Linked DNA regions of Homo sapiens: region 1 is linked to region 2. The links come from fine-mapping of genetic effects on gene expression. A gene starts in region 2. The other region holds a variant in brackets. All regions are shown on one strand. Distances are between the middles of the regions. Region 1 holds the start of CCR1 (C-C motif chemokine receptor 1). Region 2 holds the start of CCRL2 (C-C motif chemokine receptor like 2).

Region 1 (8,000 bases), 200 kb after region 2:
CATGCTTATTCCCAGGTGCTTGCTGGTGGAGAAGAATCTTCTGGGTATGAGGTTCAGTGACAAAAGCAATGGAAGACAACGTGTATTGTATTCACTCACCAGTGTAAAAAAAAGTGTGTGTGTGCGTGTGTTCTATGTTCAAAGTGACATGAGAATCTGATACTGTTGTTCCTTTTGGGAAGAGAAATGGGGAAAATAAGGCGCCAGGGGTAGGCAAACTTAGCTCTTCACCTTATATTTTGTGTACTTACAAATATAAACAAATTACATCTCAGAGAATTCCTGTAGACCAGTGGTTCTCGAAACTTATTAGAAATGCAAATCTAGGTCAGGCATGGTGGGATCACAGGTCACACCTGTAATCCCAGCACTTTGGGAGGCTGGGGCAAGAGGGTCACTAGAGCCCATGAGTTTGAGACCAACCTAGGCAACATGATAACACACCCATTTCTACAAAAAATATATATATATATATATACATATTTTTTCAAATTAGCCAGGTGTGGTGCCATGCACCTGTGGTTCCAGCTACTTAGGAGACTGAAGTGGGAGGATCACTTGAGCCCAGAAGGTTGAGGCTGCAGTGAGCCATGATCATGCTACTGCACCCCAGCCTGGGCGACAGAGCAAGACCTTGTCTAAAAAAAAAAAAAAAAAAAAGTAAATTCTCAGGCCCCATTCCAGACCTACTGAACTTAATCTCTGGAGATAAGTCCAGAAATCTGTTTTAACAAGCCCTCTGTAGATTCTGATGGATATTCAAATTCGAGAACCATTGCTTTAGGCCAGGGATTCTAGTTCTCAGATTTTTTAACATATTAAAATTCCAATGCCCAGGCTGCACCCTAGACCAAGTACATCAGAATATCTGGGGGTGGGCCTAGGAGTCAATTGTCCTTCAAGCTTCCATGTGACTCTAACATAGCGGAGGCAACACTGGTTTCACCTACCTTCTTCCAATTCTGGGATCCACCTCTTCCCAGCCTCAAATCTTGCTCAGGCTTTAGATGTGATAACCTGGAGATTGTTTTCTTGGAGTTCTTCCACAATGGCCTCTGGCTCCTCAGTTCCCCACCATCGCTGATTTGGAGAGAGTGTGTGGCCAGAAGACAAGGCCCAGCAGTTGAATATGAGGTTGAACCTGATGACGGCCAGGGTCCATGAGCTCTGCAGGTGTTAAAGACAGAGTCATCCACATCCACCACTGGCAGGGTCCCCTGCATCTCTTCCCTGAACATTGGTGCCAAGGCTGGGGTGGAAGGCTGTCTCAGGACAGGGTTTGGCTTAGTGCTGGGCTTCCACTGCAACCTCTCTGGGGCAAAGGAAGCTGCCCACATCTCCCCCTTCTCTCCAAGGAAGAGGAACATTGATGTGGATCAAGGACAATACGGCAACCTTGAGAGAACACTACAGCTTTTAAGGAGAGGAGTCAAAGGGCTTTTAAGAGAAATGAATGGAGCAAGGTCATCCCTCTTTGCTGGTTTCTCTCTTGTCTCTCTGTGCTGCCCCCATTGTACACATCTGCTGTGGTGAGAGGGGTGTGTGCACTAAGGGGTTTGCAAGGCCATAGGAGACCTGAGTGTGGGTGTGGGAGGGGAGACAGAGCAGGCAACTGAGCAGCCTCTTGTTTAGGCCTTGAGCTAAAGAGAGAAAGAAGGCTTCCTAGCTCATAGCTGGTCCAGCCTAACTCTTCTGAAGAAAGATCACATGGGACTCTGAGCCAAAAGCATTGAGAAAATCTAGATCCATGCCCCCCAAATTTAAGCATGCATCAGAATCATGCCAGTCTTTGTCAAAACCTGGATTGCTTGGCCGCATCCCCAGGATTTCTGAGTCAGTATATCTGGCATGTAACCCCAGAACTTGCATGGCTAGCAATGTCCCAGGGAATGTGAATGCTGCTGGTCCAGGGACCTCACTTTGAGAACCACTGCTCTAAAGGACTTCCTCACCCCTTCCCACCCTCGATGCACCCTTCCTTAGCCCAGGGTATTTCCCAGGCCACTACAAAAGCTGTTCCTCATTGTGGTAACTTGGTTAATTGTTTGTGATCCTTCCTAAGCTATAAGCTCTCAAAGAATGGATCCAGCCTCTTTCTTCACCACTATATCCCAAGCACCTAACACAATGTCCGGCACATTGTGAGTACTGAATAAATATTTGTTCAATGAACAAGCAGATTTGCCTGGTACATCCCCTCTGTGGAATGAAACCTAGAGCAGAGCTGGAAGCCTGGTCAAGGATGAGGTACTGACCATGTCCCTTACTTTAGACAGGATCAAGGAAAAGGCAGGCCTCACAAGCCTCTGTTCTCTTTGGAAACTGATCCACCAGCAAAGTACTGCAAATAGCCAGGCACATGCAGACCCCCATTTATTTCTTTGGGGTGAAGCTGAGTGATGATCAGATGTCAAGCTTAGGCCATCTTGTCTGAATTCTTCATTTTACAGATAAGAAAACTGAACCATGAAGAGACAAGTGATCTTTTCAAAGCACATTCACACTGATGATTTCTGAAACAGTGCTTTGTAGCAATGCCGTGAGGAAGGTTAGGGGTGTCCCCACTTTATAGAAGACACAAGGGCAGAGGCAGAGTAGGTGTTGGCAGTTGTGAGGAGAGTCACAGTACTCATCATTTGTCAGACATTTTTCACTGTGCCAGGCACTCTGACATTTTTCATGTACAAGTTGACTTCGTGCTTCTCCTCTGAGGTAAGCATTCAATACTCCCATTTAGCAGAGTAGGAACCAAGACTTAGAAAGGTGAGTGATCTGCCCATGTCACAGGTGGAGAGCTGGGATTTGAACTTGGCCCATGTTTGACCATCACGTAAAACAGGAATGGGGCATCAGAAAGGGAAGGTCAAAATGTAACCAACAGACCTATATTCCCTTCATGCTGGAGGTTCCTGGGGCAAAGCCACTCTCTGAGGTTTGGTGGGGAGGGACTTGGGGAGCAGAGAGCAGAGGGACAATGAGCTCCCAGAAGCCGAGGGGCATAGGGTGCCAAAGAGAAGCTGCTGCCTCTGTGAGCACCCATGTCAGTTAGTTTTGAGGAACAGGACTCAGGGTTCCAGTTTAAATCCTTCCATTCACAATCTTTAAGAAGAAGAAAAAAAAGAAGTCTGCCGCTGACCACAAGAGCTCTATGCCCTGCCCCCATCCCACATACACACATCCCACACTTCAATTGCTCCAAACATTCTGGGAACATCTCACTGCCACCCACCTCACCCAACTCAGCTTCACCTGCCCCCAATTCCCTTAAGGCTGAGCTCCCAGGGCCAAGACTCAAGAGGCTCAGAGTGAGCAGAGAAAATCCTCGCAGTTAACTTGGCTTCCAGGAAGTGGCCACTGGTGGGCGTTGTGGCCATTCATGAGCACCAAACCACACAAAAAGAA[GAAC/C]TTTGTCCCTTTCTTGTCATTTTGAAAGACTGTGAAACTGGAGCCAATTCTCCATCATCACACAGGAAGCTGAGTACTTCCTACTTGGTCAGGATCTTGAAACTTGAATTCATAAAAACCCAGAAAGCCCCAGAAACAAAGACTTCACGGACAAAGTCCCTTGGAACCAGAGTAAGTGTCACTTGTCTTTTCTGTCTTATCTGTTACTGTGGAGGGCAGTGTTGTTCAAAGACATGCATGCAGCTAGGGGCTCCTCAAAGGTAGGGGGAATTCTTTGAGTAGGCTGGGCAAATGTCTAAGTAGCCCATGGATGCATCTCCAAGGCAATTAATACTGTAGCAATACTGAGAATGGTGGATTTATAAAGCTGGGTGCTCAGATGAAATATAGGCTTTTTTGCTAAAAAGGAAGCTTACTTGAAGGATTGGCTTTTGGTTACTGATTAAGAAAGTCAGTCAGTACTAAGGGACAAAAGGTGTTTTCTGTGGAAACCTATTCAATAAGAAATTACTTGGCGGGGCGCAGTGGCTCACGGCTGTAATCCCAGCACTTTGGGAGACCGAGGCAGGTGGATCATGAGGTCAAGAGATGGAGACAATCCTGGCCATATGGTGAAACCCTGTCTCTACTAAAAATAAAAATTAGCCGGGCATGGTGGCGCATGCCTGTAGTCCCAGCTACTCAAGAGGCTGAGGCAGGAGAATCACTCGAATCCGGGAGGTGGAGGTTGCAGTGAGCTGAGATTGCACCACTACACTCCAGCCTGGCGACAGAGCAAGAGTCTGTCTGAAAAAAAAAAAAAAATTGCTTGCCAAATTCCCCCATGTAAAGGAAAACCAAACATGGTGTATGAAGAAATTATAGCAAGAGGGAAATATTAGCTAGAAAAATCTTGGCAGATGCAAGGATGATTTGATACTGAACCTATCTCTTAAGAAGACTAGAACCAAGGATCCTCAAAATTGGCACTGCTATCTTTGGAAGAGGTAGGCTTTCACTCACCCAAAGGCAAGGAGCTGGCCAGGTGATCTTGGGGGGCATCTGTTCTGCTCTACTAACAAAGACACAGGTCAGGATTTTGTTCTGAAGATAGAGGGGCATGGTGGCTCCGTATAGGTATCTACTTCATAGGTGGTCTTGGTGGGTCCCAGATTTCAAAGAAGAGATGGAAACTCCCAAAAGTTTGCACAACCTGGCACCAGGCTATGTGCCACTCACTGATCCTTTAGTTCCCGCACCGAGCAGTGGGACAGTGCTGGACTGTTCAGAATGTGGGGCCTGGGCAGTGATGTGCTGGTAAATGTTCAACAACTGACTCTTCTGAAGAAAAGATCCCTGCTTTATAACATTTGTTGATTTTCATGGTATAAATGCCCCCACTGTGGTCAGTTTCAAGCTACCAACATGCTGAATGTGGAGTGGGGAAGAGATGCACGCAATTGGCATTTATAAACCAGTATAAGCCAGCCAGCGCACCATAGGCCTGGGTGTCTTTCACCATCACAGACTGCTCTATCTCTGCTCAGAGACTTCACCAACTCCCAGGCTGGAGGACACTAGCAGTGGAGGGTCCAGGATCCAGGGCTATAGCTGACCACTGTGCAGTGGCCTTGAGGCAGACTTCTGCAGTAGACTACAGCAGGGCTGGCAGATTAGATGACAACATGGTCCTTTGGTTTCTCTTCTCGGGCCCCACCCCAGATCACCTCCCTTTAGGAACAGCATGCCTTGGAGTGGTTGCCTGGGGCTTAACAAGTTGGGGAAATAACAAATGGGTTGGAGGTAGGGGGTGTATGGAGGTGACTCGGTTTAAAATGCCACCTGACAATGTTGACTCAACTTGCCTTTGCCTTTGCCAAACCTTCCCAGAAACTGGACTCATGGGATCAGGCTTGCACTAGCTGCTCTTTGTGCTTTCCAAGCTATTTGCATACTTCCACTGTTAACCTGCCAGCCCACCGAAAAGTGCTGACTATCAAACCGAACTGTCTGCCCTCATCAGCAATGGCTGTGGCTGCAGAAATTAGAAACTGCCAACACAGCTTTGTTAGTGACCGTTAGCCTGACTCTCTCCAGAAAGAGGGCTGATTGGATCTCTCTGGAGATGGAGGAGTGGGCCAGGGGATGGGTTTGATAAAAAATTAAAGCTCCTCACTTCTCACCCTAATAGAGTATCTCCCTTTCCAGCCAGGGTGCCCTATACCCTCCATGTGCCTTAATTTCCTTTACAATGGCTATTGAAAAAAATGTGAATTGTGTAAGCAGGAAACATTCCTTAAGGAGAGTAGAAGGAAGAACACCAGAGACCCAGGTTTAAGATAGAAATTATAAAGTAGGTGCCACCTACTTTACTGATTGGCATTTGGGTCAAATCAATTTAGATTGGCGGCAATAGATTGACAATTTCAAATGTCATTCACATGGAAGGGACCATCATTGTCCACCGTTATCAAGAAAAATCACTTTCTAGATTAACTACAAAGAAATTTGGCAGGGGGGTGGGAGACAGGGTATACCAGCCAGCCAGGGACATCCTGGACATTGGTGCCTGGGATGTGCTGGTGGTGTCAGGCCTCAGGGAAGGGCTCCTGCAGTGAAGGAGTTCTCTCAGGGAAGGTCCCCAAGAAAAGTGCCCTGGCCTGGCTCTTGCCAGGCCCTCAATAAGGGGCCTGGCTGTTGCCAGGTGGTGGTGGTGGGAGGGTGATGGTAGCACTTTTCTCATACATTACCTCACAGTAGCCTTGCAAGATAAGAGTTGCTTTCCCACATTACAGATGAGGAATGAAGCTCAGAGAGGTAAAATAATTTATCCAAAGTCACAAAGCTCGTAGGTTACACCAAAGCCAATGCTCCATTTGGGGAGGCATCTTTAATAAGCAACTGGAAAGGATTCAAGTGCCAAAAAAGCAGGGACTGGGAGAAGTCCTACAAAGGCAACCTACAGAGTGATTCTTTTTTGTTTCATTTTTGTTTGCTTTAAGGCATCCGTGGGTAAAAATATCTAAGAGCTTATCTCAGCAGAATTCAGCTAGTCACTGTGTAACATCACCTCATAGCTCCAGACCATTCTGAACTCTTCCTCCCCTGATGCCCAGTTTTCTCTTTTTCTGACCAGGTTACCTCCCCCTTCTCTGCCTGCACTTTCCTCTCCTTCAGGAGGTCTGCAAAGTGACCTTAGATCTACCTGTGCCACCTAAGGACTGTGCAATGTGGGTCAGGCTCAGCCCACTCTGGTGCCCTCAGTGTCCTCATCTCCAAAATAATGGGGTTGACCTACTAGGATTTCACTATGGCAACACCACTGGTGTTTGGGGTAGAATGATCTCTGCACTGTAGGACATCCTTGGCCCTGCCTACCAAATGACGGTAGCATCCCCCAGTTTTGGTGACAACAACAACAAATGCCCACACATTTCCAAGTGCCCCAAGGGTACTAGGTCACTCTCGGCTGAGAATCTTCTTAGACCAAAAGCCATGAATATCTGTTTGTATCTTTCTCTGAGCCAGGACCATTTTCCTTCTCAGAGTCCTCCTGTGGGCTCCACAGTGCAAAGCTACTGCTCGGGGACAGCAGCAGGAAAGCGTAGTGGTGTCAGGGCCGGGCATGAGAATGATGCACAGCTGGGTTGGAGCTCCAGGTCTGTTCTCACAAGAGGTGTGTCCTTGAACATGTTTCCTAACCACTCTGAACCTCTGTTTCATCACCTCTTAAATAAGAACAACAATGGGACCCCTCCAGGGCTCTTTAACCCTAAGTCCAGTGCCTAGGCCATGGGGGTGCTTAGGAAGTGTTGGTTATGAATAGTATGGTAAGGTCTCCCTCTGGCTTTCCACCCATTGAACTTATCCCTTACAAAACTCTTTGCTGAAATGATTGAATTAATGATTTGTGCACTCATTTACTTATTGCTTCCACTCCCTGTTAGACTAAGATTCCTAGAAGGCAGAGAGGATCTGGGTCTCTCTAACACTCCATTTTGTCCCCAGGGCATGGTACACAGAAGGCACTCAATAAACATTTATGGAGTGGCTGAAAAAATGTTACCTCTCCCTTGTCTTTACTGTCCAGTGCCCACTGCCTTTAGTAGCAGAGTAAAGACAAATCTTTTTTTTTTTTTTAACCTGTAGGAGAAGCCGGGATGGAAACTCCAAACACCACAGAGGACTATGACACGACCACAGAGTTTGACTATGGGGATGCAACTCCGTGCCAGAAGGTGAACGAGAGGGCCTTTGGGGCCCAACTGCTGCCCCCTCTGTACTCCTTGGTATTTGTCATTGGCCTGGTTGGAAACATCCTGGTGGTCCTGGTCCTTGTGCAATACAAGAGGCTAAAAAACATGACCAGCATCTACCTCCTGAACCTGGCCATTTCTGACCTGCTCTTCCTGTTCACGCTTCCCTTCTGGATCGACTACAAGTTGAAGGATGACTGGGTTTTTGGTGATGCCATGTGTAAGATCCTCTCTGGGTTTTATTACACAGGCTTGTACAGCGAGATCTTTTTCATCATCCTGCTGACGATTGACAGGTACCTGGCCATCGTCCACGCCGTGTTTGCCTTGCGGGCACGGACCGTCACTTTTGGTGTCATC
Region 2 (9,664 bases):
CAGGAGTGTGAGAGCAGCTGGCCAACATGGCAAAACCCCGTCTCTACTAAAATTACAAAAATTAGTCAGTTGCTCTTGTGCATGACTGTAGTCACAGCTACTTGGGAGGCTGAGGCATGAGAATTGCTTGAACTCAGGAGGCAGAGGTTGCAGTCAGCCAAGATCACACCATTGCATTCCAGGCTGGGTGACAGAGCGAGACTCTGTCTCAAAAATAAATAAATAAATAAATAATTAAAAATAAAATTAAAATCTGGCCTCCTTCATTCAGCATTTTGAGATTTCGTGCATGCTCCTGTGTGTATCAATAGCTCGTTTCTTTTTGTGGATGAGCAGTATTCCATTAGATACACAGGCCAGTATTTGTTTATCCATTCACCTGTTGATAGACAGACTTTTTCTAGTTTGAGGCTATATAAATAAGGCTGTCATGAACATTTGGGTCCAAATCTTTGTATGGACATACATGCTCATTTCTCTTGGGTAAATACTGAGGAGTGAAATGGATAGTAGGTATAGGCTTTGCTTTTGGTGACACTGCCAATTTTTCCAAAGTGATTATACCATTTTACATTCCCACCAGCAGGGTATGAAAGTTCCAGTTGCTCCACAACCTTTTAGAAGCTAGAAAAATTGCCATTTAAAATGTCACCATCAGTTTCTTTCTTTCTTTTCTTTTATGATAGTGACCGGCATTCGCCTTTGGAATGTAGGGATCCTTTGTTCTAGGAAGGACCCTTGAGTGACTTCTTGCAGTTTTATCTATTACTTGTGCCCATTCCAGCTCACCTTGAGGTCAGACCCATAGCCCTATTATGACTCTGAAAGAGCAGAGCCAGCTACAAGCCCTCAATGAGTGGCATAAGGTGCCAGAGAAGAGTCTGTCATCATGGGCTCAGCAAAACTGAAATCCCTGGCATATATCATTTTATTCCTCTTCCTAATTTCTCTCCAACTGACGCTGCTTCATATTTCCTCTCTGCCTCCCTCCACTGCGCTTCCCACCCTCACATCTCCAAACCTCTCTACTTTCCTGAATAATTCACCCCAACTCTAAATTCCACATTGTCTTCAGCACAAAGCCAAACCCTTACTTAGCTGAGTTTCTTCTCCCTGGAACAGTGGTTCTCAGAAGGAGGGCCTTGGGTCAGCAGTATCTGCATCCCCTGGGGAATTTGTTAGAAATGCATATTCTGAGGTCACACTCCAGACCTCCTGAACCACAAACTCCGGGATGGGGCCCAGAACTCTGTGTTTTAGCACAGGGCTTGTGATGTGAGCTGGCATTTGAGAGCCACTGCCATGGAGTGTGGTTTGGAGCCAGTTATTGTTGTATAAGCATGTCCCTTGGGGGTCTCATCCGCTATCCTAATAGGCTCTTTGAATGTTTCATCTAACACAAATAAGGGGTCTTTGGTTATGGGGTGGCATATGGAGAATTCTCATGTTTGGAAAATCAGATTTTCTCCACCTCATTTCATCAATATAGAGCAAATTTCCTTCCACCACTGTTGAGTAGGACATTAAGGACCCCTTTTAATTGGCCAGAGACTTGGGTTTTAATGAGTCAGACATCTCTATGTGTCCCTATGTGAGATGCTGTGCCCATGGGTATCATCGTTTTTGCCTAGGAAGGAAAGTGCCTCCTGTGAAGGAAAGACAGGGTTCCACTGCTTTCCTGTAAGGTTTAGTGCCGTGAACGTGTGCCTGATGCCAGGAGGGGAGGAGTGTGGGCTGGTGCCCTGCAGTGCGGCAGCAGTGGGCGGCCTGGGTAGGTTTTTAGCAAGCATCAGTGCCAAGCCTCCAGCTCTCTTTAGTGCAAGCAAGATGCTGGGCCAGCAGGAGGAGGCAGCCAGCCCAGGCCCTATGTCTGCAGGACTCAGCCGGGAGTGGTGATTGTCCCCTGGCAGCAAGGCCCTGGTAGCTTTGAGGCCTCAAAGGGCCAGAAGCAAGATTATAAAGAGACCAGTGAGTGTGGAGTCCAATTCTGAACACCAGGAACAGGAAAATGTTTTTAGGATCAAGGATGCATCATCCTTACGGATCTGGGGGGTCTCCGGGGAGGTAGCTCACATGTTGAGGTGACCTTCTGCTGATGTGGCAGGTGGGAGCCTGTGTTCTACTAACTCAGCCACAGAAAGGAAGTGGGACAACCTTTTGTAGTTATGTGCTGGTGAGGCCTGAGGTATGTGTTATACTTAAAAGGACAAAGCATTCATTTTGTTAGACATTTCTAAACATAATTTCTCATTTGCTTTTGTTAAGTCTCCTAAGATTCCATAGTCTTGATAAAGTACGAGAAAATACCAGAAACCTTGGGTTAGGGGAAGCTGGGGGCCTAGGGGTGTGGCAAGTAAGCAAGAGAATTTAGAGAACTTCGACAGAACAAGTTACCTTACCTCTTTTTCCCACAGCTTCCAGCTAGCTAGTTCTTCTCATCACCGGCGAGGCAATGAGCCTGAAAAGTTACTCCCATATAAATGGGCTGTCTATAATTTGGAATGTAGTTAAATTGGTTTTAAAATCAACTTACAAATTATTTTAAAATACATTAAATAGATGTTTTAAAATACATTTATTTCATGTCGTTTGTCCCCAGGGTTTGGAGTTTGATGTTCTGGACCAAGCGTAGGCTCTGAGCAAATGCTACCAGGGCTGGAGAATCAGTTCTGCCACTTCCTAGTTATGTGATCTTAGACAAATTTCCGCGCCTTAGTTTTCTTCTCAGAGAAATGAGACTAGTCCTATCCACACTATGGACAAGTGGTAGGAGGCGAAGGAGCTCACGTTTGTAAAGAGCCTTGCACGGTGCCTGAGACAAATTCAGTGCTTAGCAAATGTTAGCTCACCTCTCCCTTTTCTTCCTGTATCCGATTTTGTATACAAATGTGTAGAAAATTTACATGAAATAATGCAGAAAGATGAAAATCCATGTTTATTCTTCTTGCATTTGGTGGATGCTAGTTTACACTTCGGTGGAATGGTCAGGTTCTTCCCTCGATGTGCCTTGTGCAGACTGCCCCCTGGGTTGAAGTGGGGTGTTACTACGCAGATGGAAACAGCGGCAGAGGTATTTGCTAAATGTCCCATCAAGAAACGCATACAGGAGAGGGTTGATGCAGCAGTGGGTGGTGGCGATGAGTTTAGTGATGTGAACACTTTTGTCCAGATTGTAGCTGCTCTTGCAGTCACTCAGGGAGAAGTGTTCTTTGAAAGTGGACAGGAAAAATGCAATATTGTAGGGCGCCCACATCAGAAGGAAGACTACCATTATGGCAAAAACAAGCTTGAAAAGGCTATACCTCTGCTCCCTGAACCTTAGTGTTTTTCTCATTTGCACATAGAGAAATGTAAAAATAAATAGGGGGAGGACAAGAACCGAAATGTTCATTTTTAAAGTCAGAAAATGCTTCCAGAATGTCTCATCAGCTGGCAGGAAGGGAGTTCTGCTAAATGCACACTTGTATTTCTGGTCTTCCATCTGAGGTTTATAAACCACGAATTCAGGCAAAGTGGCCAGAATGGCTGTTACCCATGCCAGGACACTTGTAATGATGCCACAGGGCACCCTCCTCCTGGCTGAGAAAAAGTTTCCCTTGTGCAAAAACACTAGGTACCTTTGCACAGTCAGAAGGCAATTGAAAAATGTCTCACTGTACAGGCCCACGAAGTACAGTCCAATGAGAATTTTACACATGGGATCGCCCCCAGCATGAGCCCAGAAGGGCAGGGTAAGCAAGAAACACAAGTTAGAAACTGCCAAGTTTAGAAGATAGATATTTTCCACGCGTTTGAGTCCTTTATATTTTACCAGGATAAGCACAACCAGGAGATTGTCCAGGACACCGATCACAAACACAGCAGAGCAGAGTGATGGCACCAGCTGGGCTGAGAGTGCCTGGGCGTCATACTTGTCACATTGCTCTGCCTCATCGCTCTCCAGTTCACCTTCTATGAGGACATCATATTCATCCTCTGGTGCCAGCGTGTAATTGGCCATCTTCAGACTGCCCTGTGGAGAAATGGGAGATGATTTTCCCCTCCGACAGCTGCCTTATCCTGGAGGAAACAACAAACTGGACCTGGATTCATACAGCCCCACTTTCCCTTTCTGGAGCTACATTTTAGCCAGAGTAATTCCCTATTTCAGAAGACTGAAATAAACATTTCTTTAACGTGTGCCCACTTCCCCAGAGCAGCACCATTCCCAATCTAGTTGTTAAGCATGTAAGTGCTTAGCAGTGTGCCAGGTGCCACGGGAAATAAAGCTGGCATGACACCGCCTTGGTAGAACTTACCTTCTTTTAGCAGAAACAGGACTTGCCTACATGAACACAATATGTAAGAAAATATATAATTAAAGAGAACCAAGTACGATGGCTTACTTTTAAGAAACGGGTGTAGATCATAATTTCTGCATTTTAAAAAGTTTGCTCACCCCCCGAAGCAGCTTCCTGTGACAGCTGAGACGTTTTTCTCTCGAAGGGTATAAATAAATGTTTGCAAAAGTGAAACCATGCTCAGCATCAACATGGCCATAAGGGGTTAAATACATAGATGACACACAGATGACTTACCACTGGGCTGAGCTCCTGCAGGGGAAGGGCGCAGCCTCCAGACCCAGCATCCGGGAGCTGTGGGAATGGCCCCGGACAGTGGATGCCCTCCTTTTGATCAGACTGCTCCTGACCCTGAGGGGCACGAGAAACCACTGTTGATTCCCCTGGTGGCTCTACCCGCCCCACTCACCGAGCTCAGGGACCAACTGAAATAAAGTACTCAAAAGCTCCCCCAGGCCTCCAGAGGATCTCTGAAGCGTCTGAAAGCAACCGGGAAGTTGTTTCCTCCTCCCTCTGGCCCTGTACCCCGCCTTTGATTTCCCTGTGACCTTTGACAGCCGTCTTCTGGCCTTCTGAGATAAGGGAACTGTGTCACTGCCGCTCTGAGTGGTAGCAAGGAAGTGATGTCAAGGTGCTGAGAACTGCCAAGACGCTCTGGCTTGTGGCATGTGACACTCTGAGTAGGTAACAGGTACCAGCTACTGTCAGCAGGGAGGAAGGTATGTGGTGACCACGAGTCCAGACCTGAGGGTCCTGACCCTCTAATGCGGCCTCTCACCAGTGTTCGCAGAAACCCACCCGCTGATTCAATACGGGGACCAGGAACCTGCCATGACAGTCACGGTGTGTTTGGGTTTTTATTGTCATTTTTGAGGGGCACTGTGTGCTTTGGTTAAGACTGAGGCCTCAAAAGAGAATTTTAGGAAAATGGAAGCCACAGGGTGATGTCAGCTGGGAAAAGGCCAGGGGCAGAGGTGGGGTCTCAGCGGCAGTGAGCATAGGGCTGCCCTGGGTGTCAACACTGAGGAAAGCAAAGGGGTTTGCAAGCAGCCAGAAGTGATTGGTGCTGTGACTCATGGGGGAGCTGACCCCACTCGGAAAAGGAGAACCCAGAGGAGGAAAATCCCGTGGTGATGACACAGAGGCGACATCAAGTTGGGTGGGAGAGAATGTGAGGAGGACAAGTTTAACCCCAAACTGAGGCTGGGGGCTAGGGTAGGTTTGAGTCCAGAGAGAAGGAAATTGAGAGAACAGCCCAGATTTGGAATGGTGGGAGGAGGCTGTGGGGAGGGGAGGCTGTGGGAAGAGAGTGGGACGGGGAGGGCACGGTCTGGAAGAAGGACGAACCGAGAAGAGGAACTTGAAAATAATGAAAAAATCTAGATGAGCTTCTCTTGGGTCAACGACTCAGCAGCTGTGACTAACCTAATTTGGGGATCAGACCTATTTGCTTAGAATTTATATATTGATTAAATGACATCCTTTTCCCACCAAAGATGTGTCTGAGGTAGGATTGAATACAAAATTTGTACCTGTCAAAATAGAAATAGAAAATTAAGAAACTAGCCTGGCACTGAGGCGCATTCCTACAGCCCCAGCTACTCAGAAGTATGAGGTGGGAGGGTCGCTTGAGCCCAGGAGTTTGAGGCCAGCCTGGGCAACATAGTGAGATCCCGGATCTATAAACAATATAAAAATTAGCCAGATGCAGTGGCAAGTGCCTGTAATCCCAGACATTCCAGAGGCCAAGGTGGGATGTTCACGTGAGCCCAGGAGTTGGAGGCTGCGGTGAGCCATGATCATGCCACTCTGCACTCTGGCCTGGGTGGCAGAGCGAGACACTGTCTCTGGAAAAAAAAAAGAAGAAGGAGGAGGAGGGGCGGGGAGAGGAAGGGAGGAGAGAGAACTATTAAGAGAAAAATAAACACAGAAAGAGCCCAGACAAATATGTGATTGAGCATTAAATTTAACTCCACGTGTGCCGACAGACAAGGCAGAAAGAGAAACACAATGATGTTTGATGGCAGAGGAGTTGGTGCTGGTGGGAACCTAAGCTGTAAGTGCCCTCTCCTCTCTTGTGTGGGTCTCCTGTGAGTGAGTGAGTGGGGGTCATGGTGCCCTGGGACACTCTTCCCACCCCCTACAGCCTGGGATCAGCAGTGGCCCCTCCTCCTGGGTCTCTCCACCTCCTGCAGCTGGGCAGGACACTCAGGATCTTGAATGAGTAGGTGCGGGCAGCTTTACTCTCGATACTCATGGATCAGTTCCAGGAAAAGGAAGGAAAGTCAAGTCAGACTTTGAAACTTGCAAAACGCTGGGAGTACGCACACTCTTCCTCATTAGTAGAGGACAAAAACAGCAGTCAGGCACCTCATGTACCGCATGTCACAGAGTCATGTGAGATGTGAAATTTCCCAAGTAAAAACACAGAATCATGTGAGGTGTGAAATTTCCCAAAGAAAAATGTTTTGTAAATTCAGGATCACCCTGGCTTACTAATATTAGCATGACCTTCACTTTCAGTATTATTTTATTTTTGCCTGATTCCCAGCATTCTGCCTATCCACACTCAGGCCATGAGGTCCTTGAAACTTCTACATAGGAAGGAAGGAAGAGTTTAGAAGGCTGCAGTTGAGGCGAAAGGAAAGTTCTCTTTATTATTCTCATATCTGAAGCCATAATAGGGCCTCCTTGTTTGTGAAACGACATCACATTCTGCAGCCTTGGCAAGTGGTCCACAAAGCTTACCTCTGAAGGTCTGAGTTCCTCTTTATCACTATAATTTGACCCCAGTTTTAGTCGAAGGAACTATCACTGTATACTCTCATTCCCCACTACGTGTAGATCACTCATTTACTTAATTCAATTATTCAGCAAGTATTTCTAGAGTGCCTAGCCTGTGCCTAGCTCTGTTCCAGGTGCTGGGGATGCACCAATGGACAAAATAGGCAAAAATCCTGACCTTCACAGAGCTCAAGTAAATTGTAGATTAGTAGGAGAGAAGTGCTATGGAGAAGGCGAAGCAGGGAAGGACAGCAAGAGAGGCCAAGGTGGCTCAGGGATCACATTTTAAATAGTGTAGTCAGAAAAAGCCTTGCTGAGAGCTGGCTGTGGTGGCTCATGCCTGTAATCCCAGCACTTTGGGAGGCTGAGGTGGGTGGATCACTTGAGGTCAGGAGTTTGAGAACAGCCTGGCCGACATGGCAAAACTTCATCTCTACTAAAAATACAAAAATTAGCCAGGAGGGGTGGCGATGGGTGCCCGTAATCCCAGCTACTCGGGAGGCTGAAGCAGGAGAATCACTCGAACCCAGGAGGTGGAGGTTGCCGTGAGCCAAGATTGTGCCACTGCACTCCGGCCTGGGTGACAGAGTGAGACTCCATCTTAAAAAAAAAAAAAAAAAAAAAAAAAGAGAGAGAGAGAGAGAGAGAGAGAGAGAGAAAGCCTTGCTGAGAAGATGGGCACTAAAGCCACAAATGGTTGGGTCCAATAGTTCATGATCATTGTCTCATTCTTTCTTGTCACTAAGTTCTTATATCAGGGAGGTTGAAAACACACACTGGGTGATAACCTTAGCAATAATTTTACCGAAGACGCAGACATATTCTTCTTAATATATTGACCCTCAATAAAAAAGGCAAAGGATGTGAGGCTCCAGTTACTGATTTATCGCCTTTCAGCTCTTCATTCACTCTTCTGTGTTCTGCTTTGTGAGTCTAGAGCTGGACCCCATAAACATTTCTCCTTTGCCAGTTGCTGTAGAAGGCATAAGAGGGTCGCAGTAAGAGGCAGAGTTTTTTCTTTCTGGTTCTGGGATTTGTTTTTATTTTGTTTTTGTTCTTTTGGCTGATTTGCCAGTGCTGGGTGGAGACCCTGCAGTGCCCACTCCTCAGTGAATTTTGCCGACACCACGACAGTGGCTTCCTGCTGACTTTTGCTGGCACCCTACTGGGTAGCTTCCTAGTAAATTTTGCTGGCACTCCAAGAGCGTCTTCCTCGCCAGAGGCATGCCCACATTCTTGGGAATCTCACTGGTACCCCTTCGGGCAGTTTCCTGCTCAGCAGCCCCAACCTGCCACAACTCTGCAAACTTCTTGGGCATCCATTGGGTTGCAGCCACACCCCCTCCAACAAGGGTGGATCAGCTGGGGAGGGAGGGCATTTTTTGAGTTCGCCCCTTCCTTGGCTGCTGTGCCTTAGCTTAGAGGTTATGGCTGCTCTCTACATCTGCCATTCCTGCATTCTTCAGCATTCTCCTTACCCCCTTTAGTAGTTCATACCCTTTTATAAGTTAATAACTCATTATATTTAATGTTCATGTGTGGTTTCTGTCTTGACTGTATGCTGATTGATACACACAACATTAAATTTAGTTCAGGGAAGGGATGGGGAAATGCTAGGATGATGCCTTTTTTAGAGATCTAACTTGATCTTGAGAAATAGGTATTAGATCAAAGAGCTAAAAACAGAAATCCCATTACTGGGTATACACCCAGAGGAATATAAATCATTCTACCATGAAGACACACGCATGTGAATGTTCATTGCAGCACTATTCACAGTAGCAAAGACATGGAATAAACCTAAATGCCCATCAATGACAGATTAGATAAAGAAAGTGTGGTACATATACACCATGGAATACTATGCAGCCATGAAAAGAACGAGATCATGTTTTTTTGTGGAAACACGAATGGAGCTGGAGGCTATTACCCTTAGCAAACTAACACAGGAACAGAAAACCAAATACCTTGTATTCTCACTTATAAGTGGGAGCTAAATGATGAGAACACATGAACTCAAAGAAGGGAACAACAGACACCGGGGTCTACTTGAGACTGGAGGGCGGGAGGAGGGAGAGGAGCAGAAAAGATACCTATTGAGTACTGGGCTTGATAGCTGAGTGATGAAATAATTTGTACAACAAACCCTCATGACAAAAGGTTACCTACGTAACAAGCTTTCACATGTACCCCAGAACCTAAAATAAAAGTTCAAAAAATTATTGTTTAAATGCATAATAACAAATTTGGAAAATTTCAAAAAAAGAGAAATAGGTATTAGAATGTTTAGACTGATGATAATTTAATCTGTCCCTTACTATGGCTTCTTCAAATATAATCTTTCTTAGATTATCAATTAGTCAATCCATCTATCTAATTTTTATTAGCAAATAAAATGTTACAGAAAATTTGTATAGAGAAAAACTATGATAGTGATAATCTCACATAATAGCCATTATAAGTTTTAAATACCACTGCTTCTTAATGGGAAATGTAGAAAAACTACTTTTAGAAAACAATCAATTTTCTTCTGAATTAGT

What was found.
Region 1: its variant is fine-mapped to the expression of CCRL2 in whole blood (TOPMed, PIP above 0.99).

The regions. Positions count from the first base shown.
Region 1 is chr3:46,203,858-46,211,857 of GRCh38, reverse strand. CCR1 (C-C motif chemokine receptor 1) reads left to right here and starts at 3,545. Exons shown (of 2, transcript NM_001295.3): 1 at 3,545-3,576; 2 at 7,534-8,000. The coding sequence starts at 7,545. It also overlaps a transcript of CCR3 not described here. The variant GAAC/C (reference allele first, on the strand shown) is at 3,403.
Region 2 is chr3:46,402,416-46,412,079 of GRCh38, reverse strand. CCRL2 (C-C motif chemokine receptor like 2) reads right to left here and starts at 4,821. Exons shown (of 2, transcript NM_003965.5): 1 at 4,578-4,821; 2 at 2,557-4,012. The coding sequence starts at 4,000. The coding sequence ends at 2,966. It overlaps CCR5AS (CCR5 antisense RNA), which reads left to right and starts at 5,014. Exons shown (of 4, transcript NR_125406.2): 1 at 5,014-5,183.